Homo sapiens: one gene and its partners. The protein of the gene in region 1 purifies or fractionates together with the protein of each later gene. This does not show direct contact. Each region holds a gene or a part of one and is shown in the gene's direction. Other genes may lie near its edges. The genes, in order: KCNK1, GPAT4, CPT1A, GPAT3, ACSL4, TMEM87A and COQ8B.

Region 1 (4,207 bases):
ATACTTGAAAGGTACGCTAAGAGTATTCTGAATATTTCACTTTCTTCTGGGAAACTTTGTGTAAGAAAGTTCAGCTTCTCAGACTTCTTTGTGCTGTTGTTCTAAGTGGTATGCAACATTGAATAAATTATGTATCACCACCAACCACTTTCAAAACAAATGTTTATTTCAGATGCCACTTACTTGTGATCCAATTTGTGTCACTGCTTTTTTTTTCCTTTAATGATGACAGTCTACACTTCACATTGTGATTATCTTATCTAAAATGTGCAATAAATACTAAATTATATCTACTATAGAATTTACATAAAATTAAACAAGCAAACTCTGTATTAGCCAGAAGAGAGATCCAAAATCCCATATTCTGATGTTTGTGCTCTGTATTCACAGGTCTTGATTTTGAGCCTTTACATTTAATTCTAGAAGTTTTAATTATCTGGTTTTCAAGCCTATAATATAAGAAATTACAGAGGGAAAGGCACAGCTATGGGGAAATAGACATGGCAGGTTATAAAAAGATAAATAGTTAAAAAATTCCAAACTAAAATTTTATTTTAAAATAACATCTTTATTGAACCCTTTATATGTGCCAGGCAATGTTTACACATATTCATTTCCATGCATTGCAATAAACTGATGAGATATAGGTATCATTGTCTTCACTTTACAGAGGATGAAACGGAAATTAATAGGTTGAACAACTTCTCTACTTAGGTCCCAAAGCCGGAAGTGACATGGTCTTAATTTGAATGCAGTTATGTCTAAGAACCTGAGCTTTAATAGCATCTGGGCATCAGACCTTGTTATGGGCCAAATCGTCTCCCTCAAGTTCTTATGTCGAAGTTCTACCCTCAGTATTTCAAAATGTGACTGTATTTATAGATAACATCTTTAAGGAGGTGATTAAGATAAAATGAGGCCACAGTGAGAAGGTGGCCATCTGCAAGCCAAGAGAGGCCTCAGAAGAAATGAAGCTTGCAGACACATTGATCTTGAACTTGAAGCCTCCAGAACTTTGAGAAAATAAATTTCTGTTGTTTAAGCCACCCACTGGTGATATTTTGTTAAGGCAGCCCTAGCAAACTAATATAGAGGTACATGATAGTTTTTATTTAGTTGCACAAAACCCATACAAATAGTGGAGGACAAGAGACAGAATCTTTTAAGTCTTTAGTCTTGCAACGAACAATTTTATATACCTGAATGGGATGTCATTGTTTTAGAGCGCAATATAGTAATCCACGTCCTTGAATCATCAAGAAAAATATCTCAACATGTTTCTACTTAAGAAGGCAGGGAAGTGTATAATAAATTCTAGAAACATTTCCACCCAATAATGGTCAAAGAGAAGAGATTCTTAGTGTTTAAATCTGTGAACTCATACCTGTCTATAAAACATACCAGTTTTTAGTATTTTGAAGGTTTGGGGTTTTTTTTTAACTATAAATTTGTTATTATCTATGCCTATTTTATAGCCCCTGGAAGATACTGCTACTATTATCAATAACGTGGAAGAAATGATGTCTTTCCTTTTATGACATAACTGTGAGTCCTATCAAGGACAGAATCTTTGATTGAACCAGTATCCTAAGGGAACTCTGGTGCTCTCAGAACAAGCTATTTTATGACATTGCTCATTGGAGTGTTACTGTGTGTGACTGTCATTTTATAGCCCCCGGAAGATACTGCTACTATTATCAATAACTTGGAAGAAATGATGTCTCTTCTTTTATGACATAACTGTAAGTCCTATCAAGAACAGAATCTTTGATTGAAGCAGTAACCTATTGGGAACTCCGGTGCTTTGAGAACAAGTTGTTTTATGACATTGCTCATTGGACTGTTGCTGTGTGTGAGTGTCTATTGTCTTTGGAGCATGTGAATTGCCGACACTCAATTGTTTTGACCCATAAAAATGGCAATTCCAGAAGGTTCAGTTTACTACAAGGTTGGTTTCAGGGACAGAAATCTCATCTGCCTCATATACTCTGACATACTCAGAGTTGCACCTGCTGGCTTTTATTCTCCAAAGACATCTTCCAATTGTATTATTGACAAATCCGTGAAATACTAAGGTGCTGAAGTTCTCCATTGACTGTGTCATGCCCAGGTGGCTTATTCAAGGCAGGAGATAAAGGTTGTCACTTTATTGGAAAGCAAGCAACTTTTGAGGTGTTTTATTGACTCCTGTGATACTTCTATCTCCTAGACTCAGTCTGTACTCTGACTTTCTTTGTTTCTTTTGCATGGATCCCTTATTTTTTGTTCAATCCCCAAAGTTGGTGGCCCACTCTCTGTCAGCAGCATATTGCAAGGTGATGCCCCCGATCTGAGGCTGAATGGAGGAAGAAAGAGAATAGGGAGTTGGAGATGTAGAGTTTGTGCACCTGAAAGGACTGTGGGATTGTCTCCTTGAACTTGAGTCAGATCAGAAGGGCTTATCTGTGACTTTCTACTGGTTTTCATGTTTGCCTTCTTTAATTTGGAAAACAGCTGATTGTTATATTGATGAGATTAATTTGCTTAGGTTAGACATGGGAGTGTTTTTAATTTGCTACCGTCTGCTTGATCCCAGATCAGAGTCTAACTTTTTGCATTAGCTCCTCTGACTGGGATTGACCAACTTTGTGAAATAAAAGCCTGCCCGCTGCTGCCTCTGAGACTCAGTTATTAGTACCCATGGAAGGGCTTTAGGCAGAAAGCTCTCAGGGAACTCAGAGAGAGTCGGTGAAATCATGGCTGATGCATTCAGAGGACAGAAAGCCAGGCACAGAGTGTTAAATACAACATTTTCTCACCCATATGTGGAAGCTAAAAAAAGTTAATCTCAAACAGTTTTTCTAATGCACTAACTTCTGGGATTATCTTTTCAAAAAGAAACAATGGAAGATAATGAAAACAAATGGAAATGGTTAGCAAGAAAAAAAAAAGGTTGGCTTTATAGAAGTGAAAAGTAAATGGAGCATACTAGCATCTGGGAAGGGTACGGGGAGGGGGGATGGGGAGAGATTTGTTACAGGATACAAAATTACAGCTAGATAGGAGGAATAAGTTCTGGTTGTCTATACCACTGTAGAATGACTATAGTTAACAGTAATATATAGTTTCAAGTCACTAAAAGAAAGGTATTAAATGTTCCCAACACAAAGAAATGATAAACATTTGAGATGATGGATATGGTAATTACCCTGATGTGATCACTGTACATTATGTGTATTGAGGTATCACTGTGTACCTCATAAATACGTAAAATTATTACGTGTCAGTTTTAAAAAGAAGAAAGAAACCTTTTGTTTTTTGTTATTGAGACGGAGTCTCGCTCTGTCACCCAGGCTGGAGTGCAGTGGCGTGATCTCAGATCGCTGCAACCTCCACCTCCCAGGTTCGAGTGATTCTCCTGCCTCAGCCTCCTGAGTAACTGGGACCACAGGCGCATGCCACCATGCCCGGCTAACTTTTGTATTTTTAGTAGGGACAGGGTTTTGCCATGTTGGTTGCCATGCTGGTCTTGAACTCCTGGCCTCAGGTGATCCACCTCAGCCTCCCAAAGTGCTGGGATTACAGGTAGCGTGAGCCACCGCACCTTGCCAAAAAAGCTTTCTTTAAAAAAAAGAAAGTAAACCTGAAACTATTCAAGTCAAAAAACAAAACAAAAGCAGGTAGAATGTTTCTAAGGGATTTAGAGAGAGTAAAACATGTTAGGTTTCATTTCTCTGAGTATGATCAATAGAGTTGGAGTTGGAGGCTCCAGTTGTTTACGGTCATCTCTTGTTATGTGGGGGGCTCTGTGACCTGAGTTAAGCTATTTACTCAAGTCGATGCCCCAGTTCCCTATTCACTCTGCTTCACTGAAGCCTCTTGGGGCTTATTTAGACAATGGTTTCATCATTTCGTCTGAATAGAGTCTGAAGAGTCTTTGGTGGAAGTATGCACTGAGGAGGGAGGCGGCAGAAGTGCCCTATCCCAGGAAAGTGTGCTCCCCAGGATGCGCTGAGCCAGGCACACACAGGACTTGGGGCTACTGAGAAGCAGGTTCTTTTCAAGTTCTGTTGTCCCAGACACCTCCTCCATTTCTTCCCGCTCTTTCTCCACAGCACTTAGCTTTCTACCTGCTGGTTCCCGTAACATCTGTCTTCACCTGGCCTCACCTATCTTCACCTGGCCTCACCTGTCTTCACCTGGCCTCACCTGGCACCTGGTTCCCATA
Region 2 (4,207 bases), on another chromosome or scaffold:
AGTGTTAAGTTGTGGGATTCTCCCATTAAAATGTTACTCCTGTTACTGGACAGTCCAAACATATGTATTACTTAAGCTCTTTGTCTCCTTTAAAATGAAAATTGCTGCTTTCTTGGAGTAATTTGGTGGCAGGCAGTAGTTTACAGGATACCTGGCTTCGCTGTTTTGAGTAGCTGCCGTGCGGCAGTGCAGGAGGAATCGTGAGGTCTGTGCTGTCAGCAAGTGAGCTCCCTACAGCCCGGAGACAGAGAGACGTAGGCAGTGAGGAACTAGGCCTGAGGAACTCGCCCCAGCTTCTTGAAGTTCCCAGTGTTTTGCTATAGGTGACTTAACTCTTGGTCCCAGTTGTCAAGGAAGGGGCTGCTCTGGGGAGAGGTGGTTTGAGTTTCCTTCTAGACTATGTGCTTCTTGGCTACGGTCTTAGGTGACTGGGACTGAGGCTTTCACAGAATAGAGATGGAGGTGTTCACTGATTGAAAACAGGTCTCATTCTTGCTCTTGTATCTTGCTTCCTTCCCCTCCCAGTGGGCTACCTTGAGAATGGAGCGAGGAGCCAAGGAGAAGAACCACCAGCTTTACAAGCCCTACACCAACGGTAAGATGGGGGTGTGATCCTTGTCCTGAGAGGTCCATTTGAACAGTGTTCCCCAGTGCTTCTGGTGCCACACACGCTCTTCCCTGCATTAGTGCAGGATGTGTGCTCTGAGTATGTCTCACGTGCTCTCCCCCAGCGTGCTGCTTGACAGGGACACATTCTTTTGCAGGAATCATTGCAAAGGATCCCACTTCACTAGAAGAAGAGATCAAAGAGATTCGTCGAAGTGGTAGTAGTAAGGCTCTGGACAACACTCCAGAGTTCGAGCTCTCTGACATTTTCTACTTTTGCCGGAAAGGAATGGAGACCATTATGGATGATGAGGTGACAAAGAGATTCTCAGCAGAAGAACTGGAGTCCTGGAACCTGCTGAGCAGAACCAATTATAACTTCCAGTACATCAGCCTTCGGCTCACGGTCCTGTGGGGGTTAGGAGTGCTGATTCGGTACTGCTTTCTGCTGCCGCTCAGGTGAGGCAGGGCCTGCGGGAGTGGGGCTCGCTGCTGCCACCCCACGTGGTGCACAGCCCACCTGCCTGCTCTGCTGTGTATTCCCGTTTTAGAAAGGAGGAGGGAATGACTGTCGTTAGCCAGGCCACGTGACTCTTTGGAGGGATACACTGGTGATTCTCCTTTAGAGGCCCTTGGATTCTCTGCATATCAGACAGAAATAGTTGGATTTCTTAAAGACAGCTTGCTTCTCTAGATGACAGCAAACACAGGGACAGGGAACATTGTGTGCTTTCTGCCACTCCTTCCTGGACATGGCTCATTCTTTCCTGAAGCTTGCCTCTCAGGTACAGGGGCAGTATTGATCTTTCAGCTTCTCTGCACCATGTGCTGCTCTGAGTGTGCCTTGCCAGATGCTAATACCTTCAAGCTCCACCTCCTGTTGCTTCAGAGGGAAGCTGTGCTTCCACCGGGGTTTCCAGCCAAAGGGAAGGGGAGGGCAGCAGGGAGCAGCCCTGTGGCAGAATGGCCAGCTTAGGGTTTTCCAGCCTTCCAGCTGCCTGAGGCCTCAGGAGATGCAGGCAGCTGAGAGCCAGACCCATGGCTCACTGTCAGCTGGAATCAAAAGGATCTCTGGTTCTGATAGGCCTGCTTACATTTCTAGGTGAACTCTGGTCCAGGTCCCAGGTGAGCAGGTCTTGGGGGTGGTTTTTGTGATGCCCCCTTTGATTTTCACACCTTCAGTTCTGTACTTGGTAGAATGATTTGCTGGCTGTGCTCTAACTTTTCTTCTTCTTACAGGATAGCACTGGCTTTCACAGGGATTAGCCTTCTGGTGGTGGGCACAACTGTGGTGGGATACTTGCCAAATGGGAGGTGAGTAGAGTGTGGCAGTCCATGCCTGAAGGACAGTTAGTTCTGGGAATGGTGCTCAGATATCGAAGGCAAGGACACTTCTTTGGACACAACCAAAGCCATGGAATCTTAGATGGATTAAATAACCCAGTGGTGGCCAGGCACGGTGGCTCATGCCTGTAATCCCAGCACTTTGGGAGGCTGAGGTGGGTGGATCACCTGAGGTCAGGAGTTTGAGACCAGCCTGGCCAGCATGGCGAAACCTGTCTCTACTAAAAATACAAAAGTTAGCCAGGCACGGTGGCGGGTGCCTGTAATCCCAGCTACTTGGGAAGCTGAGGCAGGAGAATCCTTGAATCCAGGGGGCAGAGGTTGCAGTGAGCCAACATCACACCACTGCACTCCAGCCTAGGCAACAGAGCGAGACTCCATCTCAAATAATAATAACAACCCAATGGCAACAACGGCATCAGCAGTAAAGTCTTTACTTTTTTTAAATTTTGATCTATGACTGTTCTTTTTGTCCTTCAGCCCTCACATTCTTCCCATTTTGAAGACAAAAGGGAGGAGCCACAGACATGTAGAGTCCGAGACTCAGATGTTAACAGATTTTACAGCTTGTTGTTTAGTTTTGAGCATTTGACTGTGTGGATAAAGTGATGAGACAATACAGTTTTTAAAATGGTTTGAAATGTAGGGAGGTTTTGTCTGTTTGTGTGAAGAATATTTTGCTCCCTTTGGGAAGTTCTGGGGTTTAGAAACCTTTCTTCTGCCTGGGCGGGTGAGGAGGTTGGCCTCTGGCCTTGGACCTGCCTCTGGATGTTGACTGGGGGAACGGAGTTCAGCCCGCCTGTGGTCTGCGGATGCCGGATTCTAGGCTGTGAATTCTCCACCCACTGATTTGGGTGGATGTAAGTGAGTCTCCCTGTCCCCTCTTTCTCTCCTCATGTGTGAACATAAAGGTGCTCATGCATCACAGGACTTTCCTGTAGGTGCTGATGTCTATACAAGCACTTTGCTGTTATAAAGGACTGCTGAGCTGTTGAAGTCAGTAACTCTTTCTGTCTTCCTGTATGTAAAATAAAACCCAGAATCCTTGTCCTGTTATTGCAGGTTTAAGGAGTTCATGAGTAAACATGTTCACTTAATGTGTTACCGGATCTGCGTGCGAGCGCTGACAGCCATCATCACCTACCATGACAGGTGAGAGCGCTTTGTATTGATAGGAAGGGAGATGGCGCTGCAGGAAACACCACCCACCTATACTTAGCCAAATGGGAAGACACTTCTGAGCTTTTAGTTAGAGCAGATGAAGCATGTGAGGTGAGAGGTGTGTTACATGAACTGTTTCACACTAATTTTGGTTGCTTTGCATACATTTTAAACCCAGGGAAAACAGACCAAGAAATGGTGGCATCTGTGTGGCCAATCATACCTCACCGATCGATGTGATCATCTTGGCCAGCGATGGCTATTATGCCATGGTAAGAGCTCTTTCCGGTGCGTTCTTGAGGCAAGACTTCCTGCTTTAGAGTGGTCAGGGCTAGGAGGCTCCTGGACCCTTCACATAAACACATTTATGCGTGGGCCAGGCCCCCACCTTACTGTCACTGTGGGGGCTCTGTGGGACTGTGATAGGAGATACCCTGGGCAGAGTGATTGGTGAGTGTGGCTGGAGAGGATGCCAAGGGCAGTCAGGCAGACCAGCAGGGGCAGAGGGAGTTGCTGGCAAGGACTGTGTCCAGGGCATCTGAGAATCTGCCCAGGGAGGGGCAGTTTTACACAGGGAATTGCGCTACTTTAGTATTTTAGTATTTTGTCTTAGGGGTTTCAGTTATGTTTTTAATTACCTATTTCTAGTATTACTGATTAAAAGGAGAAGTTTAAGATTTGGGGAGTCTTGGTAGTGGTTTCTTGGCAGTGAGCAACCTTCAGCCGGCAAGCGTTAGAAGTGAGAAGTTGGACTGCTTATTTTGTGAGATGTGGTTCTTCCTAGAGTGGGGAGATTCGTGTGAAGATGGCTTCACTACTAATGAGTCCTGTGCCTGCGCTTAGGTGGGTCAAGTGCACGGGGGACTCATGGGTGTGATTCAGAGAGCCATGGTGAAGGCCTGCCCACACGTCTGGTTTGAGCGCTCGGAAGTGAAGGATCGCCACCTGGTGGCTAAGAGGTAATGGACAGAACACTGCTGTTCTGCTTGGCCAGTTAGAATGCTGAAAAGGTTTCAGGGTAGTTATCCCTCCACAGTGCAGTTACGTGCCTTCTATCATAAGCCTATACTGCTTTCATAATAATTTTTTCCTAAAA
Region 3 (4,698 bases), on another chromosome or scaffold:
GGGCGGGGAGGAGGCCCTAATTGTCCAATGGGGGCCGCGTAAATGGATCACAGCATAGTCAAAGGAAATCTTATGCAGCCTTGGGAAGGCCGGTGGTCATCTCCGTCCCCCAGCAGAGACCTGTCTACGACGTAAGCCAAGTGAAAACAAAACAGCCTTACAGACAGCTTGCATCCTAGCCTTCCTTTAAAACAGCGAGCCCGGGAACCGCAGGGAGAGTTAACTGCAGCGGTGGTGGGGGGCGGGATCAAAGGAGAACTTTCATTTTCTCTTCTAAATTCTTCTGCGGTAACAACTAAATGATACAGAAAGAAGGATGGTTGCAAACATGGATTTTTTCATAACTAGAAGAAGTGGTCGAACTTAAAAAGAGCAGGGTTCATAAAAGAGGTTTAAAAGAGTCTTTGTTCATAACATCGGTGCATTTATGGAGCACCTGCTGTATGCAGAGCCGCCAGCTCGCGCCTGGAAGCATTGCGGGCAAAGATAGGGGAGGGGTGGCTCCCGGTCAGGAAGACCCCCTTGGCCCTCCTGTTACGCTTGGGGCCCCTCTCCCTCCCCCTCAACCCCCTGGGTCCCCTGCAGCTGCGCTCGCCCTAGACTCCTGGGACCGGTGGATGTTCAGTTCCCGCTCCCGGCCCCTCTCCCGAGCTCCAGCACAAGGGTCTCTCGGTCGCTCTGCCCTGGCCTCCAGCTACTCCTCTCCCAGCACCTATTATGTTCTTGACGCTGGAAGAATTATTTTAGTAAATCTCACCAAAGCCCCCCAAGTGAGGCATTTTTATCCTAGCTAGATGAGGAGGAGCCACGCTGCCTCTGGATCGCGATGACTGCCACTCGTGGTATAAGGTCTGATTTGGGGCATGGGCTGTGGAATCAGATCTGGACCCAATGTCCGATCTATCACTTCCCCGCGCTTTTTTTTTTAGAGACGGGGTCTCGCTACGTTGCCCAGGCTGGCCTCGAACTCCTGGCTTCAAGCGACTTCCCGCCTCCCGAGTAGCTGGGATTACAGGCGCGCCCCACCACTCCCTGTGGATCGGTTGCTTCTCAGCTCGGTGATGTGGGGTAACTTATTTCCTGGCCCGCGACCCTTGTCTGCATGAAAGAGTCAGGGGTGAATACCATCAGGGGGTGCCTGGAGCATTACACGGGGCAATGCCGATAGATAAGTCGCGAGGATCAGCCAGGCACGGAGCTAAGCGATTTTATGCGCACGGCCTCCACGAGATGGCTCGTTTTACGGATGAGGAAACTGAGGCTCGGAGGGTGAGGAATCTCGTCCTAGACCCCATTCCGGCAGAGGTCGAGGACGCGAGCACCCGCTCGAGCCTCAGTTTCCCTCCCCTCCTAGCCCCGCGGACGCCCCGCCCCGCCGAGGCCCCGGGCCCGCCCTCCGCGCGCCGGGAGTCACCCGCCTGCAGGCGCCGCAGCCGGACCCGCCTCAGCCAATCCGCTGCTGCCGGCGTCGGGTGCGCTCGGCCTCGCCCGCGGCCCTCCTTCCCCGGCTCCCGCTCGCCGCTCGTTCACTCCACCGCCGCCGCCGCCGCCGCCGCTGCCGCTGCCGCTGCCGCACCTCCGTAGCTGACTCGGTGAGGCCCGGTCGCCCGCGGTGGGGAGGGTGGCGGGGCGGCCCTGCGGGCTGCGGGGGCCGGGGACGGGCGGGGCGCGGGGCTGCCGGGAACCGGACCGGGTGGGGGACGCCGCCGGAACCGGGGCGCCGAGAGGAACCCCGGTATTCCCCCCGGACGGCGGGGTTGTGGAGATCCTGAACCCAGAAAGAGGCCGGGGCTCCCCATGTTCCCCAGGGGATTGGGTCTGAGGGTCCACCGGGGGTCGGTCCATCCGCAGGCGGGTCCCGTGCGGCCGCGGGAGGGATGCTCGGCCCTCCGGACTTGGCTGGACGCCTCCGGCCCGGGGCCAGCGGGGCCACCGGCTCCCTTGTCTCCCACTCCTTAATCCGCCCTGGACTGGATTGAGTCTGAGGGTCTGCCCAGGGGTCGGTCAGCCTGCGGGTGGCCGCGGGAGGGATGCTGGACGCTCTGGATGCTTTCCAGGATGCCTTCGCCCGGGGCCAGTAGGGCCTCCGGCTCCTGTCCCTGCCCATCCCACCCTGGCTCTGGAGAGGATTGGGTCTGGGGGTCCGCCCGTGGGTTGGTCACCTACGGGCAGGTGCAGTGCGGCTGAGGGAGGGGTGCTCGGCCCTCGGGATTCGGCAGGGCGCCGCTGACCCCATCCCAGCGTCCGTCTCCCCGGTCCCCCTCCCCATGCCCGCCCTCGCGGTGCAGCCGTCGGGACACGCCCTTGGCGCAGGGACTCCAGGCGCGGTCCGAGCGCTGCCGTGAGCAGGATGAGGGTGCCGGGCCCAGTGCCTGCTTGGGAGCGCCCCGCAGCCTCTCCCGTGCAGCGCTGGGTCAAGGGCGGGTGGGCGCGGAGCATGTGCCCAAGGTCGTGCCGGGCTGGGAGCGGCGGGGCCGCGGGAGGGTGGGGGTGTCACGTGGCCGTGCCCTGGCGAACTTGGCCTGCGAGCCCGACGGTGCGGTCAGGGCCACGCGGGGCAGCCCCTTCTCGGAGCCACCGCCGCGGCCAGCCAACAGCCGGCTTCTTTCGGTTTGTCAGGAGAGGCCATGGGTCAGCGTCTTTATAATGTAAATCCGCCCTTGGCTTTCGTTAAAGCCGCAGAACTCAAAGATGAGGGCCGATCTTACTTTAAAAAAAGAAAACAACTCAGAGAGTTAAAAATCCCAACTACCTACCAGGTTAAATACATAACAAAGTTAATATTCCCAACTCGGCACAGGCTTTCGGTTCCTCTCGGCTCCGTGTGTTATAAAATATTTAAGGGCAGATTTTAGTAGGAAGCTGGTAACTTTGTAAGTTACCGAATAAAATGAAAATCGGTTTTACCTTTTGCAACGTTGTATTTTGTTACACCATTTTCTTCCACAGGTGTCCGGTTTCTGGTCATTCCAGATATGCAAGCATGTTTATTTCATTCTAAGCCACAAACCAAGTGAATAAAAAATGGCTGAGCACTGGTCTTCTATTTATGCCAGGAAGCACCCCCACCCCCGGGCCTTTCCAAATTCTTTAAGGCGACTCTGACCGAGTGAACGTAGCAATAAATTGAGGACATAAGTGTCGCTGAGAATGCACACCGCTGAGGCCAGCGAACATCCAGCTGTCAGTTGGTCTGGGGACTATCAGCATTCGCAGCTGGTTCTTTGGATTGGTTTTGCCTCAATACCAAGAGCCTGTGGACTGCTTTTCGCATGTAAATTACTGGTTTCCTTCCTGTGAAGCATTGCTAGCCTAGACCTTGCACTTGAACCCTATCTTAACAGTTGGAATCAAACAATAAAAAGGGCCAGGTTTGGGAGTGCACACACTTTGTTTCAAAGTGGCAGAAGTTGGCATCATGCACAGGCCAAAATAACGTTTCGAGTTGGTACTAAAAACAAGCCGCCTACCCTGGAGGGGAAGAGAATTAAACTGGGTCCCTTCCGATACTGCTGCGGCTGCTGCGTTTGGCCCCGGCCCCGGACCAGTGGTCACCGAGCGGTCAAGTTGGGCCTCCGGGGAGCCCTGGAACGAGGGCCTGCCCTTACCCAACCCTGGCCCCGAGTGCTCATTCATAAAAACACCGTCAGTTTTCACTGAGGCTTCACAGTGAGCCCCTTTTAGACGCGCCCTGGGCTCTTGAGCGCGGTGCCTGCGTTTCTGGCTCGTTGGATGCAGCATCTGTCATCAGAAGCACTGAGCACCGAGCTGTCCCCACAGCTGGGCACCGCAGGGCTCGACCTTCCCACGGAGAGGTGCGTTGCATTTCTCCCGCTGTCGCTGGGGTGGCCACAGGGACGCGCGCCAACTCGCTCCGGAAGGTCTCTGTGGGCACGGCGGGTGGAACAGGATCCGAGCGCCTGGGACGCGCCAGCCTGGGGGCGGGGCTGCTGCTGACCTTTCCCCTACTTTTCTCAGCCGTCACGTGACGCCGCCCGGGGCTTGGGGGAAGGGGCGGGGCGCGAAGCCGCAGTTGCTGGCGGTGCCCTTCCGAGGACGCTTTCCAAGCGAGCAATTAAACTTGCTGCCCGAAATCTAAAGGCGCAGGGGCGGTGGCAGCGGCGGCGGGAGGCGGAAACCGGAGCCTGCGCGGGCCAAGGGCTGCTTCTGCACTTTGATCGTTTGCATTTTTTCCTTTGTTGGAAAAAATGTTTAGTCACTCTGCATGGTTATTATTGGCAGGCCAGAATTCTGTTGCTGGTGGAAGCCTGAACTTGAATTCCGGAAGAATTGGTGCTTTAAGAATTAAAATGGCTGTTCGAGATTGTTTGTTTAAAGTGTGTTGGAGAGAATCTCTCGAGAATCTCTCCAACACACTTTAAAGAGGCCTCACTTGTCTTCTGCCAGTCTTGAGCTTTTCTTGTGAAGACTTTTGTTTTGTTTTGTTTTTACAAATAAGCGATATAAGCATACGATGCAAAGTTAAAGAGGCACAGATGGGCCCGGCCCCGTGGCTCACGCCTGTAATCTCAATGCTTTGGGAGGCCAAGGTGGGAGGATTGCTTTGAGGCCAGGAATTCGAGACCAACCTGGGCAACAGAGCCAGACCCCTGTCTCTACAAACAATTAGTAGGGCCTGGTGGAGTGCATCTGTGGTCCCAGCTACTCAGGAGGCTGAGGTGGGAGGATGGCTTCAGC
Region 4 (4,207 bases), on another chromosome or scaffold:
ATGACAGAAACTACTGAATTGCATACTTTATTTTATTTATTTATTTTTATGATGAGATAGAGTCTCACTCCATCACTTAGACACAATCTTGGGTCACTGCAACCTCTGCCCGCTGAGTTCAAGCGATTCTTATGCCTCAGCCTCTCGAGTAGCTGGAATTACAGGCATGTGCCTCCATGCCTGGCTAATTTTTGTATTTTTAATAGAGATGGGGTTTCACCATGTTGGCCAGGCTGGTCTCAAACTCCTGACCTGAAGTGATCCGCCTGCCTTGGCTTCCCAAAGTGCTGGGATTACAGGCGTGAGCCAGTGCCTGAACTGAATTACACATTTTAATGGGTTGAATTGTATGGCATGTGAATTGTATGTCAATAAAGCTCTTAAAAAACAGACTGTGGCTGAAAACTTATGTCATCTATGAGAACTCTAACATTGCCTCACTTAAACTGGGATACATAATGTTCTGGCCTGTTAATCTAGCAAATAAAAAGTTTCAGTAGTTTTGAACCCAATTGTTAAACATGTTAAAATGAAACTCCTTCTGATTTAATGGATGGGAACAAGTGATTCTCATTGGGGCAAGATGGCAAAACATTATTTTAAAAGTTTTGCATAATTGATGATGAGATTAAACAATAATTTAGTTATTGCATCAGTAACTGACAAGAAAAAAGAACCTGACCTTCAAATTGCTATGTCAAGTCTTTAACAAAATTTAACACCTTATTTATCAAGGTATTTATAGGAAAGCATGTTCAAAAAGCTTTCTTCTTGCTCAAAATTGTAATAGTATTAATTATATTTATTAGTTATAGTAATATATCATGTTATTAAGTTATAATTATAAAATTGATAGTTATAATTATAAAATTAATAATATATATTAATGTATTACTTTATTATCCTATTTTGAGTGAGGACAAATTGCAACATTAATATAATTTCAAAATACTGTATTTTTAAATAAAAATATTTATACTTTTTTTTACGTTTCCAGATGTTTTATAATGTACATTATATCAGTACAGAATATGCACATTATTCTTAAACACATTGGGCTGCATGTTCAGATGTGTTATTGATGGAGTGTTTCTCCAAATGGGTTAAGATTGCTGCCTTTTACGCTGTTTCTTTTTTTTTTTTTGAGACAGTCTCACTTTGTTGCCCAGGCTGAAGTGTAGTGGCACAATCTTGGCTCACTGCAACCAACCCCTGCCTCCTGGGTTCAAGCGGTTCTCGTTACAGGGATGTGTCACCATGCCTTCCTAATTTTTGTATTTTTAATAGAGACAGGGTTTCACCATGTTGGCCAGGCTGGTCTCGAACTCCCCACCTCAAGTGATCCACTCGCCTGGGCCTCCCAAACTGCTGGGATTGTAGCCGTGAGACACTGCTTATTTCTCTTGTTTTAAATAATGCTAAACTGCTATGTTAAATCATAATCTCCTGAAAGACAGAATAACATAATGCTTATGAAAATGAATTCTGGAGCCCTGGGTTCAAATCCTGGCTCGGTTGCTTATTTTCTGTGTAACTTTGGGTGAGTTAGTTAGCCTTTCTATGCTCCAATTTTTTCATGTGTAGAATGGGGATAATGATAATATTATTGCCTCATAGAGTCTTGGGGATGATTAAATGTGTTAAATATAAAAGGTACTTAGAATATTGCGTGGTGTATAGTGTTAGGTGTTGCTTCATCATCATCTAATGTGAAACCTGGGATTGGTTAAGACAAACGATTTTATGCTCCAAATATCTGATCAGAAAGTAAAGATAGCTACGTGTCAGCAGTAAATGAGCTTCACCCTGGAGAGGGTTACTGTTCCTGACCCTTAACCTTAGGCAACCACTGTAGCTTCCCCAGACACACAGGGTCCTTCTGATACTGCAGGGGTGGTCCCCTTCAGTCTGCTTATTGAATACCTCACGCATTCAGCAACACGTGTGTGCTCTTCTGGGAACAGGAAGACATAAATAGGCCTCTGGTTTGATTTGAGAGAGTAATGAGATAATCTAAAGTTTCTGCTTTCTCCATTTGACAAAGTAAGATGATTTAAAGAATCTTATTAGTAAAATGTGATTAAACTATTGATTTTTCTTCTCTATTAACTAAATCCTATTTATTTTGAAAGATTTTGTCTTAACTTTCCTTTTTGAATAATTCTATTTACATTTCTAGAAATTACTACTTTCCTTTTGAAGTCATTGGAATGTATATTAAAAGCACTTTTCAAAAAGAAGGCAATGTCTATATGGAGGTTAGAGGTACTGTCAGTCACCTTGTTTGCTAACTTCTGAGTTATCTTGAACCATGCAAAAGGACAACAGTTAGATTTGCATTAAAAGATGTCTACATGGTGGTATATTTTGGTGTTCTTATTATGAAAGCACCTTTAAATCTATTCCCTTCACTAGCCCTCTTAACCCTTTGGTGATTATATAGATTTAACTTGATAGTTTTGTGAAAATTTCCAGGCCTTCTCTATGCATATACAGACTTGTTACACATGTGTTTGTTGTTGTTTTGCAGATGGCATCATATTCTGTACTTTATTCTGAAACTTACTTTGCTTTTTGCCTCTTAAAGTGTGTCGTGGAACATTCTTCCGTGTTAGATCTATATAGATTTACCCAGTTATTTTAGTGGCTGCATCATATTTCATCATGTGGATACTCTACAACTTATTTACAATTTTATTATTTAGGAACTTTTTGGTTACTTCCATGCTATGTGTCAAAATCTTATATGGCCCTCTCTTTTCTTTTTCAGGGTTACCTTGGCTTTCATTGGGATCAGTTTGCTGGTTATAGGAACTACACTGGTTGGGCAGCTGCCAGACAGCAGGTGAAATGTTTCCTTCCATCCAGCCATATATAGGACTGTCTTTTTTCTTAGCTGTGTCCACAAAGAGAATATTTGTTTGATTCCTATGTATTGCATTATTATTATTATTATTTTTGAGACGGAGTCTCGTACTGTCACCTGGGCTGGAGTGCAATGGTGTGATCTTGGCTCACTGCAACCTCCGCCTCCTGGGTTCAAGAGATTCTCCTGCCTCAGCCTCCTGAGTAGCTGGGATTACAGTCACCCACCACCATGCCCAGCTAATTCTTTGTATTTTTAGTAGAGACGGGGTTTCACCATGTAGGCCAGGGGGGTCTCGAACTCCTGACCTTGTGATTTGCTTTCCTTGGCCTCCCAAAGTGCTGGGATTACAGGTGTGAGCTACCACACCAGGCTGCATTGCATTAAATTTATGTTCTCTACTCATTTATTAGAATCCTGCTCACTTCATCTTCATAGTCTTTGATTTTTTTAAATCATACTTCCATATTAATTGAAAGAAGTTGTTTTTTCAAAGGAGAATTGAAGAAAGAAAATGAACTGAGTTACCTAAGAGAGTCTTATATATTGGCAAGCTCATAAGACCAAGACCAAAGAAGCTTCACTTTATCTCGTTCAGGAATTTGTCATAATAGCCTAGTGGTTTTGAGCCACTTTTCATTAGAGTTATGTCCAGTTTTTTTGGTAGACTTTTGTGATCTAATACTAAATGTGCCAATGAGACTATAACAATTGACTATAAGACTATAAGAATTGAACTGTACCTGTTCACCAGAATAGAATGTGGTATGCTGTTGTGAAAAAGCACATTAAAACCTTTATTATATTGTTTCTTAAGAGTGCCCAGAATGGCACAATAAAATGTTTCTATTTCCTTCAGCCTCAAAAACTGGCTGAGTGAACTGGTCCATCTGACTTGCTGCCGGATCTGTGTGCGAGCCCTCTCTGGTACCATTCATTATCATAACAAGTGAGTATCTGCTCCAATGTGCCTGTCTTTTTCTAGGTCAATTCAGCATGAGATTGACAAGGAAGCATTGGAAGTGGTTGGGAAGAAGTGGGTGGAGTCAGAGTGCTTCCAATGTGTTCATCTCTACTTCTCAGTGTGGCACAGGCATGATGCACAAAAACACTAAATAGCAGTGTTTGCAGAAAGAATATAATAATAAACACGTAGTTGTGCTCAATAATTGGGCATTTATGGTGTGCAGGCCAGACCCTGTGTTTCTTGTAGCTCATCCCTATGAGATAGGCACTGTTAACCCATTTTATAGGGGAAGAAATGTAAGCTTTGGGATTTGTTGTTTAGGGTCACAGTGAATAAACAATGGAATCAGGTTTTGAGCCATGTCTCTCTGATTT
Region 5 (4,207 bases), on another chromosome or scaffold:
ATTTGTTAGATTTTGTAACTACCGTAGCGTATTTAGTCAAGCGTATTTAGCGTATTTAGTGTATGCTGTGCCCCAGTCAGACTAGTGTCCTTGCTATTGGTACTTCCTATTCTCCCAAAGTCCTTTCATTCCCACCTTCGTATCTTTTTTCATATGGTCCCTGAGCCTGGAATACCTTCCATTCCTCTTTCATTTCTAGATGCCCAACATAAGGTCCAGCTTAAATCTAATCTCCACAAAGCCTCTCCTAGTTACTCTTGGCCATTTTGCACTTCCTCTGAACTCCTTTTGCATTTATTGCTTATACTACTGCCTACACTGCACATGGTAGTTATGTATTAGTTATGTATTACCACAAGGCTTTTCAGTGGAAATGCTTTAGTGGTCACCTTGGGAGTTGGGATTCCGGGAATTCTGGGGCAGGACTCTGGACATCCCCAAACCCTGTTTTGGCCAGAGCAACTCCACTTTAGTGTTATATATGGGCAGTTTCCAGTAGTGTTTATTAGAAGAGATGGTTTAATTGCACCCCCTGTCCCCGTTCCCCCAAACAGTTGCAAAAATACTGGATCTATCTTGTGTGATAGTTGACTCATAAGTGTTAACTTATAATGGCCAAGGGCCAGGAATTAATACTACTTCAGACTTGTATTACCACTCCTAGGCAACTGGTGCAGTTTTGAGCACAAAGTGGACATGTAGGAAATGATTTTACAATTGTATTGCTCCCATGTGGGAAATAGTAGATAGTAAATAGCATTACCTGAGAAATTTACCTTAATGAAGAACTCAGAATAAGGTTTCTGGGTTGACCTTTGAGAAATAAATCTAAGTTGATAGTTTCTGCCCCACCCCCCCCTTTGGATATAAACCTAACACTATTTAAAGATGTCTAGTTTACATGCACATGTTTAAGAGAAATCTTATTATTGGCATACCCTATTCTACCAAAGTTTTGACAAACTTAAATATCATATTCATGCATTTGTGTAAGCATTAAGGTTGTTATTCAACTCACAGAATGATATGCAGAGTACCAGTACACCTAGAAACCTAGAAAAAAATAAATTCAGAAGTTGATGTGCTCAAAGACATTTACGTCAATAATGATTACAAATGGAAAATGCCAGCCTTTCAGACCAGTTATTTCAGCTTTCTGTAATTAATTGTGTAAACTAATAAAGACCTGAGTATTTAAATCAATTGTGCTATCAACTTGTTAATATTCTTTTGTTTTTGTTTTTTGTTTTTTGTTTTTATTTTTCCTGCTCTCTGCTTGGTTCATTGTCATCACCTACAGGCGTACTTTATTGTCGGCTTCCAAAGATTACTAACTTTTATCTGTATCACTAAGATTGAACTGCCTTGGCTGTACTGCTATTCTTACTGCTGCTTCTATTATTGCCTTCTTCAGCACAATAAGGCTTTCAAAAGCCAAAGAATAACAAGAAATAAGCACCATTTTAGAAGCCTTTCCACTATGAAACTTAAGCTAAATGTGCTCACCATTATTTTGCTGCCTGTCCACTTGTTAATAACAATATACAGTGCCCTTATATTTATTCCATGGTATTTTCTTACCAATGCCAAGAAGAAAAACGCTATGGCAAAGAGAATAAAAGCTAAGCCCACTTCAGACAAACCTGGAAGTCCATATCGCTCTGTCACACACTTCGACTCACTAGCTGTAATAGACATCCCTGGAGCAGATACTCTGGATAAATTATTTGACCATGCTGTATCCAAGTTTGGGAAGAAGGACAGCCTTGGGACCAGGGAAATCCTAAGTGAAGAAAATGAAATGCAGCCAAATGGAAAAGTTTTTAAGAAGGTAAAGTATTTTGGTGCTTTTCATTTATGTTTTAAAGAGGAAGACACATTTGTTTTATCATAAATCGAGTGCGTTTTAAGTATGCTGGCATTCTATTATAGTGCTGTGTAAAACTACTCAGAAGCCGCTCATAGCTTCTGTATGTTCATTTAAGAGCATTTTTAGAGTTTTATGCTTTGGATAGTATTTTAATTGCTTGTTTGAATATACTAATATTAGAGAATGTATCACTTTAACAGTTAATTCTTGGGAATTATAAATGGATGAACTATCTTGAAGTGAATCGCAGAGTGAATAACTTTGGTAGTGGACTCACTGCACTGGGACTAAAACCAAAGAACACCATTGCCATCTTCTGTGAGACCAGGGCCGAATGGATGATTGCAGCACAGACCTGCTTTAAGTACAACTTTCCTCGTAAGTGCCTTGTGTTTTTGGAGGGGGGAGAGGAGGGTCTTTGCTTGCATGTGAGAATTGTTTTGAGATGCTCTTGTTTTCACAGTAGGTGTTGTTTAGCCATTTTACACATTAATTATGTCCATAATACGGCATGTAATATTGTGGCTAAAAGATATCCGATGACTCCTGTTAAGTATGGTAACTTGTAAGAACTAATATGGGAATTGGCAGCTTTAAGGGATGTGATTTACACTTTTATTTTCCAATTGGAAATGAATTGTAACTGAAAGAGTTGGAGTTTGGGGGTATTTTGGGGGGGTGATATACAAAGAGTAATGATTAAAAGAACAAAAAACCATTTCTCAGGATAATTCAAATTCATTGCTTCACTTTGAGACCTCTTATTTGACTTATTCTATTTTACGTGTGAAATATGCATGTGACAGCTGGAATTGGCATTAGATATGTTAGAAAGTAAAATTGAGTATATTTCTAATACTCAAGCATTTGTTGTTGCCATTGTTTAAGAAATAAACAATGTATTGTCACATACTAAGTACTCTGTTGTTTGTTGAATGAAATATAACACTGTAAGTTAGGATTATAGAGCTTAAATTTCAAACAAAAAATAGATAATATGAAAATGATCCCCTATGTACCCATTACCCACTTTCAACGATGAACAGCTTGTGAAAGTGGCTATTTTTAACCACATTGTTTCTGGTTACCAATCTAGAGCTGAATTTTCAGTTCTTTCTAAGTTTAGCAGATGTCCTTTGATTCTAACTGATCTTGGTTTATGTTATCTCTGGTGGCTCCTAAGGAGTAGATCTCCTTGATCTCTCTAATTAAGGTGTGGAGGTCACCAATCACATTGGACATTGGACTCACTAAAACAGCTTCTTAGAAGGAGTAAGAACATTATCTGTGGCTGATCTTATGACTTAAGATCCTCAAGATTTTCAAGGACTTATCCATTCTTTGGAGGCTATGGCCAATGAAAGTGTGTATCAAGAAGAAGCCCTAGCTGGGCCAGTCTGACCTGAATTAAGAGTTCAGCCAGTACCTATTGGCCTTGAGCATCTAAATTGACAGATTTTTGATCAGCTGTGGCAGTGCGAGTGTTTCTGGGTTTCTTCAGGTTTAGGAAGTGAGAGTTCTGGGAATTTGTAAGGAAAACTTTGGGCTCCCAGGGAGTTTGAAGCAAGGTTGAAGGATGGTAACAGAGACTATGAAATCAAATTAAAATATACAATGTCTTTGTGTCTCTAAGTGTAACTATTATTAAAGACTGACTTCAATAATATCCATTTCTAATAGATGTTTATTACTTAATATTTGTGTTTATTTTTATTATGTAGTTGTGACTTTATATGCCACACTTGGCAAAGAAGCAGTAGTTCATGGGCTAAATGAATCTGAGGCTTCCTATCTGATTACCAGTGTTGAACTTCTGGAAAGTAAACTTAAGGTAAATATGAAATTTTCTTTTAATTCATGGTTGCGTTGTCTGGCAGGACAGAAAAATATTCATTCAGTAAGTGAATTTTTGTTGCAGGCTTAAGTTTAATAGCTGTTTTTTTTTCTTTCTGCTCAACAGACTGCATTGTTAGATATCAGTTGTGTTAAACATATCATTTATGTGGACAATAAGGCTATCAATAAAGCAGAGTACCCTGAAGGATTTGAGATTCACAGCATGCAATCAGTAGAAGAGTTGGGATCTAACCCAGAAAACTGTAAGTAAAGCAGTAAAAACAATTTTATTTACCTATTCCAAGTTTGTTATTTTGGTAGGTTAGGGAAACAAATGACATGAGTAAATCCACAAAAGTTCTTTGACTGAAAAAAAAAAGTTCAAAAATCTTTAAAAACCATCAAGACCATATATGATTAAGATTTTCCCTCCATTTCTCCTCAAAAAAAATAAGTTAGTAAATTTCACTAAGTGGTTGAGATGTAATCTGTGGTTCAGAC
Region 6 (4,207 bases), on another chromosome or scaffold:
CACTCCAGCCTGGGCGACAGAGTGAAACTGTCTCAACAACAAAAAATTAACAAAATGATGAAGCTCCCTTCTCTTCATTTTGTGTGTGTATGTGTGTATGTGTGCACATACATGTATGTGTGCATACGTCTGTGTCTCAGAATATCCTTAATATATTTTCAATTTTCTTTGTTCATGATTATTCTCTTCTTCCTTTCCCTTTAATAGTTTTCCCGTTTTGTTGTGTTTCCTTGCCTCTAGATGTATCCTAATCATCATGCCATTTTTCTTCTTCAGTGTTGTCTTCATCTATATAATTTTAGATCGTGAGCTGAAATAGCTCCTTCTTTAAAAAAAAAAAAAAAAAAAGAGAGTCTCACTCTGTCTCCCAGGCTGGAGTGCAGTGGCATGATAATGGATAATGGCTCACTGCAGCCTTAAACTCCAGGCTGAAGCTACCCTCCACCTCAGCCTCCCAAGCAGCTAGGACAACAGGCGTGTGCCACTATGCCTGGCTAATTTTTATTTTATTTTATTATTTTTTATCTTGAAACGTAGTCTCACTCTGTCACCCAGACTGGAGTGGAATGGCACGATCTTGGCTCAATGCAACCTCCAGCTCCTGGGTTCAAGCGATTCTCCTGCCTCAGCCTCCTGAGTAGCTGGGACTACAGGTGCGCACCACCATGCCTGGCTAATTTTTGTATTTTTAGTAGAGACGGGGTTTCACCATGTTTTGGCCAGGCTGGTCTTGAACTCCTGACCTCAAGTAATCTGCCCATCTCTGCCTCCCAAATTGCTGGTATTACAGGCATGAGCCACCATGCCTGGCCTAATTTTTATTTTTTGTAGGGACAGAGTCTTGCTATGTTGCCTAGACTGGCCTTGAACTCATGACCTCAAGCAGTCCTCCTGCCTCGGCTTCCCAAAGCACTATTGCAGGTGTGAATTACCACGCCTGACCAGAAAAAGCTCTTTTACTATAGGAGAGCAGGCTGAGTGCTCTCTATATATACCATATATGTGTCTGTGTGTATAATAGAGAGCACCTTTTATATGGTATACATATGTGATACATACATACACACACACACACACACACACACACACACATATATATATATACATATGAGAGCATTCGCTCTTGAGGACAAGTTCATATGTAGTCTTCTCTGCTCAAGACAAGATAATGCTTTCATATTAGTTAATGTTAAGCTCCAAAGGAAGAATTATTTCTTAACTAGAAGGTAGAATATATTTTTGTAACTTGTTAAGACTGTATATTGATTCAGGACAGGCGCTGTGGCTTATGCCTGTAATCCCAACACTTTGGGAGGCAGAGATGGGAGGATTGCTTGAGTCCAGAAGTTCAAGACCATCCTAGGCAACATAGCAAATCCCCATCTCTTAAAAAAAAAAAAAAAGTATATATTGATTCTAAATCTACAGACTTGGCTCTTGGCCCTAATTCTCCTTTTTATCTTTTACCCAATTTGATAACAGTTTTTCATGGTGATGTGTATTGTATATGTCCTGTTTGGTGTTCTGTGGCTGGCATGGTCTGCCTGCTACTGGAGAGATCTCCTGAGAATTCAGTTTTGGATTGGTGCTGTCATCTTCCTGGGAATGCTTGAGAAAGCTGTCTTCTATGCGGAATTTCAGAATATCCGATACAAAGGAGAATCTGGTAAGTAACCAGAAAATCTTTGCCAGTTCGAGTGGTTGGAAGGTGAGATGTATGAAAATATTCCTAAGGTCAGCAGTCACTACATAGGCTTAACTTTTCAATTACTTAATTATTACAATATCTTAAGCAGAATCACTATGACTCTGACTTTTGTTTTTAATCTTATGAGTTCAGTGATGTAAGACTAATTTTACTGAAATATGCTCACAAAAGTCACAACAGTAGTGACCATTTTGGGAATGATTATTAACATCAAATCTCAATTTCTGTTGATTTCTAAGGCACCATTATACATCTAAGAAAAAAAGTAAAGCTGTCAATTTAATTGTAAAATGTCACTGATTGTAAGACACACCTTGATTTAAAAAACCTCAAAATGTGGTGGGAAAGTGCATCTAACTGATAAAATATAGTCATATCAAGAAAATAGGAGAGTGCTTATGGTTTAGTAAGGTGAACTGGTAATGACAGAAGTTGTTTTATACTGTAGTTTTTTGTGATTGCTTCAGTTTTTTCTTGTCAGACCATTTAATTTAGTCATAATTATTATTGTGAGATAAACTGATAAGATTTTCCCTGGTCTTTGAAAGGTCTTGAAAATAGTAGATCTGAAAAAAGTTAAGCTGTACATGCCAACAAGCGTGTACACGAGTGTGTTTTGTGCTTTTCTATGTGTAGCTGTATTTCACAGTTTTTAAAAATGGGGGAAATTGTCTCGATGCTACAAACTGTCCATATAGGGTGAGGTATTCTGTTAAAGTTTTAGTGAATTTGGGGCCAGGTCGGGGAGGGAGCTGAGTTGAGCGCACCCAGATTGCCATACATAGACATGAGTAAGATTGTGAGTGGCATCAGCTTGTATCCTGTAAAAACTGTGGAAGAGGTATTCTATTTTAGCAGGACTAATATCAATGCTTATTCTGAAGAGTGTAGAAAGCAGCAGTCTAGTATTGGCATCTGGCCTGTTGCCAAACCTAGATTATGGTGCCATTTCTTCCCTTCTTTTTCATAGTCCAGGGTGCTTTGATCCTTGCAGAGCTGCTTTCAGCAGTGAAACGCTCACTGGCTCGAACCCTGGTCATCATAGTCAGTCTGGGATATGGCATCGTCAAGTAAGTATTAACTTCCTGTATGGAAGAGCAAATTAAAATGCTGATTAAATTAAAACAGTATTGCATGTTCCCAATGTAGTAGTTCTGAAATAGTTGATAAAAGAAATAATTCTGAAACAAGAAAGGTATTTGAAATTTTGTAGCATTGTAAATGTTGGGAAAATGTGTTTCATTTTCCATACTTCCAAATATATTCCATACTTCCAAATATATTCCATACTTCCAAGTCCAAATGTATTCCATACTTCCAAATCCAAATGTATTCCATACTTCCGAATATATTTCCATACTTCCAAAATATTTTTTGCAAATTAGATTTTTTATGGGAAACGCATTCTTGCTGTAACTGTCTGAAAATATTTTTCTATCCAAAAAATTTTATTTTTATTGAGGAGTGTCTTCTATAGGCATTCTTTGAGGCATTGTTCTAGGCCCTGGGGATATGGCAAGTAAACAGAAGATTTTGAGCTTACATTTGTGGAGGGAGGGGACAAAGACAAAATTTAAGTGGGTAAAATATTTTAATATGTCAGTGGAAAGTGCAGTGGAGCAGGTAATGCAGGAGCTAGAGCTTGCAGTTGTACATAGGGTGATCAAGGAGGGCTTCACTTAATGACATTTAAGCAGAGACTTCAAGGAGGTGAGGGAGCTATATGTATACCCAAGGGAAGAGATGCTGAATTGAGATCAGATTCTATATATATTTTGAAGGTGGAACCAGTGGAATTTGCTGATGGATCAGATGTATGATAGGAAAGAGAAGAGGAATTAAGGATGATGCCAATTGTTTTGATCTGATAAAATGGCAGGATGGAATTGAAGATTTACTGAGTTCAGGAAGACCTTAGGTGAAATAAGTGTGGAGCAGGGGCAAGATTGGAGTTGAATTAGATAACTAAGTAGGGGAAACAAAGGGGAGAGGTTGGGGCAGAGATAAAAGTTTGGGAGTCATGAAGATAAAGATATTATTTAAAGTCATGAAGGCCAGGCGTGGTGGCTTACGCCATAATCCTCACACTTTGGGAGGCCAAGGCGGGCAGATTGCCTGAGGTCAGGAGTTCAAGACCAGCCTGGACAACACAGTGAAACCCTGTGTCTGCTAAAATACAAAAAATTAGCCGGCTGTGGTGGCATGCACCTGTAGTCCCAGCTACTTGGAAGGCTGAGGCAAGAGAATCGCTTGAACCCTGGAGGCGGAGATTGCAGTGAGCCAAGATCATGCCACTGCACTCTAGCCTGGGTAACAGAACGAGACTCCATCTCCAAAGTTAAATAAATAAATAAATAAAGTCATGAGACTGGATTTGGTCACCAAGGAAGTGAGTATATATAGAGAAGAGGTCCAAGGGCTGGGCCCTTGAATATTTAATATTATTTAGAAGTCTGTAAGATGAAGTAGTTAGCAGAAGAAATTGAGGAGAGACCAGTG
Region 7 (4,207 bases), on another chromosome or scaffold:
CAGGCATGAGCCAGCACTCCCAGCCAGGTTTCTTTTTTGCGTGGTGTAACTGTCCTAAAATTGATTCTGGTGATGCTTGCACAACTCTGTGAATATACTAATAATCATTGAATTATATAACTTAAATGGTGAATTATAACAGTATGTGAATTATTTCTCAATAAAACTGTTAGAATGAGCCTCCAAAGAGCTTATTTATGTGGATTATAGTTATCAATGTCTACCATATTAGAAATTAAAACTGAGAAATTTTTAGGCCAGGTGCGGTGGCTTACGCCTGTAATCCCAACACTTTGGGAAGCTGGGGCGGGAGGATCCCTTGAGGTCAGGAATTTGAGACCAGTCTGAGTGACATAGCGAGGCCCCATTTTTACAGAAAGTAAAAATATTAGCCAAGCATGGTGGTGCATACCTGTAGTCCCAGCTACTCAGGAGGTTAAGGCAGGAGGATCACTTGGGCCCAGGAGGTTGCAGTGAGCCATGATTGTGCCGCTGCACTCCAGCCTGGGTGATAGAGTGAGACACTGTCTCAAAAACACAACAAAAATACAGAGATATTTTTAAAACACAAGAGTACACACGTACACATTCCATCAGCTGTCAGTCTGATGGTGTCCTCACATGTCCTGGAGCCTCTGGAGAACTCCAGTGAATGTTCTTAGACGCATGAGAGCAGAAAGGGGAAAATAACATCTTAATGTTACGATAAAAATAGTTTGATCTCTCAGACCCCTCTGAATGGTCTCAGGGACCCTCAGGGGTCCCTGGCCCACATTTCGAGAATCGTTGCCCTTCTCATGTCCCCACCTGGTCACTCCCCTCACCAAGGGTGACCTCTGTCTTGGCTCCTGGACCCTGGATTTGTTTGGCCTTGTTTTGCTCTTTATATCAGTGTAACTGGGTGATGATTTCATGCACCCGGCTGCTTTCACTCAGCATTACATTTTTGAGACCCACCTGGGCTGTTGTGTGTAGTGATAGCTCATCTATTCAATACTGTAGTAGTTACTCTTTGACTCTCCTGCAATTTGTTTTAACTTATGTTTATTTTTCTTTCTTTCTTTTCTTTTTTTTTTTTTTTTCCCGAGACAGGGTATTGCTTGGTTGCCCAGGCTGGAGTGCAATGGTGCGATCACAGTTCATTGCAGCCTCAACCTCCAGGGCTCAAGCAATCCTCCTGCCTCAGCCTCCTGAGTAGCTGGGACTACAGGCACATGCCACCATACACCCAGCTAATTAGAGACAGGGTCTTGCTTTGTTATCCAGGCTGGTCTGGAACTCCTTGACTCAAGCCATCCTCCTGCATTGACCTCCCAGTGTTGGGATTATAGGCGCGAGCCAACAAGCCTGGCCTCCGTATTTCGTTTTAGCCATTCCTGTTGGTGTGCAGATGATATATATTTTTTTTAATAGAGAAAGGATGTCACTGTTGCCCAGACTGGTCTCAGACTCCTGTGTTCATCCCGCCTGGGTCTCCCAAAGTGCTGGGATTACAGGCGTGGGCCGCCGGGCCTGGCCGCAGTGATGATATTTGTGGTTATAATTCTAATGGTTGTTCTCTCCCCAGAGGGTGGTTCTGGGCTGGACTCCAGCCCCTTCCTGTCGGAGGCCAATGCCGAGCGGATTGTGCAGACCTTATGTACAGTTCGAGGGGCCGCCCTCAAGGTTGGCCAGATGCTCAGCATCCAGGGTACAGCATGACCCTCGACTCCTGACCCCTGACCTCCCTTCTACCCCAGCCCTACCCACCAACAGGCCCCAACTTCAGATACTCACACGGGGTCCCTCCTCACCTCTTCGCTTACTTCCCCCCTGGTTCCACTGTCTCCCAAGACAACAGCTTCATCAGCCCTCAGCTGCAGCACATCTTTGAGCGGGTCCGCCAGAGCGCCGACTTCATGCCCCGCTGGCAGATGCTGGTGAGTGCCCAGTGGGGGAGGGCGGTGAGGGAGGCAGGCTCCATCTCCTCTGACCTGCCTGACCTTCCTGGCTTCACTGCCCCACTCCCTGCCTCTGAGCCTCACTTTCCCCATCTGTAAAATGGGAATCACCAGAGTACACACCTCCTAGCATTGCTGTGGTGATTAAAACAGGGAACAGCAGCCTGACCTCTCTGTGCTTCAGTTCCCTTCCCTGGGAAATGGCGATAGTGACAGCCACACCCACATCATAGGGTCACATAAATCAGTTTACACTGAGCACTGAGAACGGCCCCTGATTCACTGTGAGCAACATGCAGGTGTTAGCTGTGATTATTACTGTTTTTTTAATTAAAGGAGATCGTGTCTGTAATAGGTTGGCACGGCGCCTGGCACCAAGTAAGTGCCCAGGACATGAGCTGTTCTAATAACTGGGTAAGGCATGGAATCCAGGATTCCGCCACCCACCTGCTCTCCCATCCCTGTTCTGCTTATTCGCCATGCGGCCCCAGGCAGGTACTGCCTCTCTCTGGGCCACTCTGAATAGGACCTGGCCCACAGGAAGCCCATTGTAAATTTTAGCTCTTCTTGATCACAGTAACTGTGAGTTAATAATAACATATAAGAGCATAATAAAGGATGGTTGGCCACGTGTAATGGCTCATGCCTGTAATCCCAGCACTTTGGGAGGCTGCGGTGGGAGGATCATTTGAGCTCAGGACTTCCAGACCACCCTGGGCAACATAGTGAGACCTTGTCTCTACTAAACATAATAACAGTAATAATTAGCTGGGCACAGTGGCACATATCTGTAGTCCCAGCTATTCAGGAGGCAGGAGGATGGCTTGAGCTCGGGAGGTTGATGCTGCAGTGAGCCGTGAGAGTGCCACTACACTCCAGCCTGGGCTACAGAACAAGACCCTGTCTCAAAAAAAAAAAAAAAAAAAGGATTGTTATGAGTCTTAACTATAAATAATAGCAATCCCCACAACAGCCCAGGGAGTCCAGGTTCAGGGGACACAGGCTAGGCTGAGCCTCACAGTCTGCCAGTGCCTGGCTAGTCACTTGCACAAGGGAGCTCTCTCTGAGCCTCAGTTTCCTCATCTGCAAAGGGGGTGGCAGCCAAGAGCTTAGCCCAGGGCCCTGCATGTGGTGAGTGCTGGGGTTATCAACACGTAAAGCACTCAGCCTGGGGAATGAACTCTGCCACAATGATGATGGCTGTGACCACTCCCCGCAGAGAGTTCTTGAAGAGGAGCTCGGCAGGGACTGGCAGGCCAAGGTGGCCTCCTTGGAGGAGGTGCCCTTTGCCGCTGCCTCAATTGGGCAGGTGCACCAGGGCCTGCTGAGGGACGGGACGGAGGTGGCCGTGAAGATCCAGGTGAGAGGGGAGGCTGGGCAGGGTAGGGGCGGGCACCCTGCTAGCCCAGAGAAGTGACTCCCACCTTCTCTCCCTCCCTTCTCCCTTTACAGTACCCCGGCATAGCCCAGAGCATTCAGAGCGATGTCCAGAACCTGCTGGCGGTACTCAAGATGAGCGCGGCCCTGCCCGCGGGTGAGGCGCCCACCCACTCCTCTGCTGACCTCCCAAAGGGGCTATGCCCAGAGAGAGAAAGCAGGAGGGGGAGCCCAGAGGAGAGCACGGGCAGGGTGTGCTGGCGTTGTGAGCGGGAGTGTCAGAGACAGAAAGGACACCAAGGCGGGGAGAGCCCAGGGAGCATGAGCAGGTGTGGGAAAAGCCTTATGGATTTTAACAGAGCCTTAGAGAGACGGGAGCCCAGGGCCAAGATACAGCAGCAGACTCTCAGAGGGTGTGCATGCAGGGAGCGGGATTGTAGGTGCGGCAGAGCAGAAAAGGACAGTCCTGGGGATGGCACGTGAGGAGGCGCCTAGAGAAAGGAGGGTGGGTTGTGTTTGTGTAAGAGACGGAGAGGGAGAGGGAAAGCCAGGCCCAGAAGTGAGATTCAGATGCAGTGAGCAACGTGAGAGTCAGTATGAAAAGGAGACAGAATAGAGGCAGGCGTGACTCTGAAAGAGCTGCCAGGGACTGGGGTGCAGGCATGTGCAAGAGACAGAGCCCAGAAAAGGCTTCGGAAGACCCCGGGGAACCCTGTGGTGCTATGAAGGACGAGGGAAATGTGTAGACAGATGATACGATGCAGGTCAGAGGCCTGGAGCAGGAGCTGCAAGGGGCAGCGGGGGAGACAGGAGAGGGACAGATGCAGGTCAGAGGCAGGAGCAGGAGCTGCGTGGGAGACAGGAGAGGGACAGATGTGGGTCACAGGCCT

Evidence for each region.
Region 2: the proteins of KCNK1 (region 1) and GPAT4 purify together in Homo sapiens (affinity purification with mass spectrometry; one large-scale study listed by BioGRID and IntAct). This does not show direct contact.
Region 3: the proteins of KCNK1 (region 1) and CPT1A purify together in Homo sapiens (affinity purification with mass spectrometry; one large-scale study listed by BioGRID and IntAct). This does not show direct contact.
Region 4: the proteins of KCNK1 (region 1) and GPAT3 purify together in Homo sapiens (affinity purification with mass spectrometry; one large-scale study listed by BioGRID and IntAct). This does not show direct contact.
Region 5: the proteins of KCNK1 (region 1) and ACSL4 purify together in Homo sapiens (affinity purification with mass spectrometry; one large-scale study listed by BioGRID and IntAct). This does not show direct contact.
Region 6: the proteins of KCNK1 (region 1) and TMEM87A purify together in Homo sapiens (affinity purification with mass spectrometry; one large-scale study listed by BioGRID and IntAct). This does not show direct contact.
Region 7: the proteins of KCNK1 (region 1) and COQ8B purify together in Homo sapiens (affinity purification with mass spectrometry; one large-scale study listed by BioGRID and IntAct). This does not show direct contact.

The regions. Positions count from the first base shown.
Region 1 is NC_000001.11:233,620,302-233,624,508, forward strand, and holds part of KCNK1 (potassium channel subfamily K member 1), read left to right. Parts: intron 1-3,850; exon of another isoform or gene 3,851-3,918; intron 3,919-4,207. UniProt on the Homo sapiens protein: Ion channel that contributes to passive transmembrane potassium transport and to the regulation of the resting membrane potential in brain astrocytes, but also in kidney and in other tissues.
Region 2 is NC_000008.11:41,608,891-41,613,097, forward strand, and holds part of GPAT4 (glycerol-3-phosphate acyltransferase 4 isoform 1 precursor), read left to right. Parts: intron 1-525; coding exon 526-595; intron 596-764; coding exon 765-1,065; intron 1,066-1,071; exon of another isoform or gene 1,072-1,731; intron 1,732-1,845; coding exon 1,846-1,920; intron 1,921-3,012; coding exon 3,013-3,102; intron 3,103-3,289; coding exon 3,290-3,383; intron 3,384-3,954; coding exon 3,955-4,070; intron 4,071-4,207. UniProt on the Homo sapiens protein: Converts glycerol-3-phosphate to 1-acyl-sn-glycerol-3-phosphate (lysophosphatidic acid or LPA) by incorporating an acyl moiety at the sn-1 position of the glycerol backbone. Active against both saturated and unsaturated long-chain fatty acyl-CoAs.
Region 3 is NC_000011.10:68,838,669-68,843,366, reverse strand, and holds the start of CPT1A (carnitine O-palmitoyltransferase 1, liver isoform), read left to right. Parts: upstream 1-1,450; 5' UTR 1,451-1,592; intron 1,593-2,949; exon of another isoform or gene 2,950-3,815; intron 3,816-4,698. UniProt on the Homo sapiens protein: Catalyzes the transfer of the acyl group of long-chain fatty acid-CoA conjugates onto carnitine, an essential step for the mitochondrial uptake of long-chain fatty acids and their subsequent beta-oxidation in the mitochondrion.
Region 4 is NC_000004.12:83,584,485-83,588,691, forward strand, and holds part of GPAT3 (glycerol-3-phosphate acyltransferase 3), read left to right. Parts: intron 1-2,770; coding exon 2,771-2,845; intron 2,846-3,725; coding exon 3,726-3,815; intron 3,816-4,207. UniProt on the Homo sapiens protein: Converts glycerol-3-phosphate to 1-acyl-sn-glycerol-3-phosphate (lysophosphatidic acid or LPA) by incorporating an acyl moiety at the sn-1 position of the glycerol backbone.
Region 5 is NC_000023.11:109,680,760-109,684,966, reverse strand, and holds part of ACSL4 (long-chain-fatty-acid--CoA ligase 4), read left to right. Parts: intron 1-1,300; exon of another isoform or gene 1,301-1,480; coding exon of another isoform or gene 1,481-1,603; coding exon 1,604-1,831; intron 1,832-2,070; coding exon 2,071-2,248; intron 2,249-3,591; coding exon 3,592-3,701; intron 3,702-3,830; coding exon 3,831-3,969; intron 3,970-4,207. UniProt on the Homo sapiens protein: Catalyzes the conversion of long-chain fatty acids to their active form acyl-CoA for both synthesis of cellular lipids, and degradation via beta-oxidation. Preferentially activates arachidonate and eicosapentaenoate as substrates.
Region 6 is NC_000015.10:42,234,891-42,239,097, reverse strand, and holds part of TMEM87A (transmembrane protein 87A isoform 1 precursor), read left to right. Parts: intron 1-1,482; coding exon 1,483-1,666; intron 1,667-2,678; coding exon 2,679-2,778; intron 2,779-4,207. UniProt on the Homo sapiens protein: Potential monoatomic ion channel gated by mechanical force, implicated in normal touch sensitivity through the generation of mechanically activated currents.
Region 7 is NC_000019.10:40,702,808-40,707,014, reverse strand, and holds part of COQ8B (atypical kinase COQ8B, mitochondrial), read left to right. Parts: intron 1-1,567; coding exon 1,568-1,690; intron 1,691-1,833; coding exon 1,834-1,919; intron 1,920-3,159; coding exon 3,160-3,300; intron 3,301-3,392; coding exon 3,393-3,474; intron 3,475-4,207.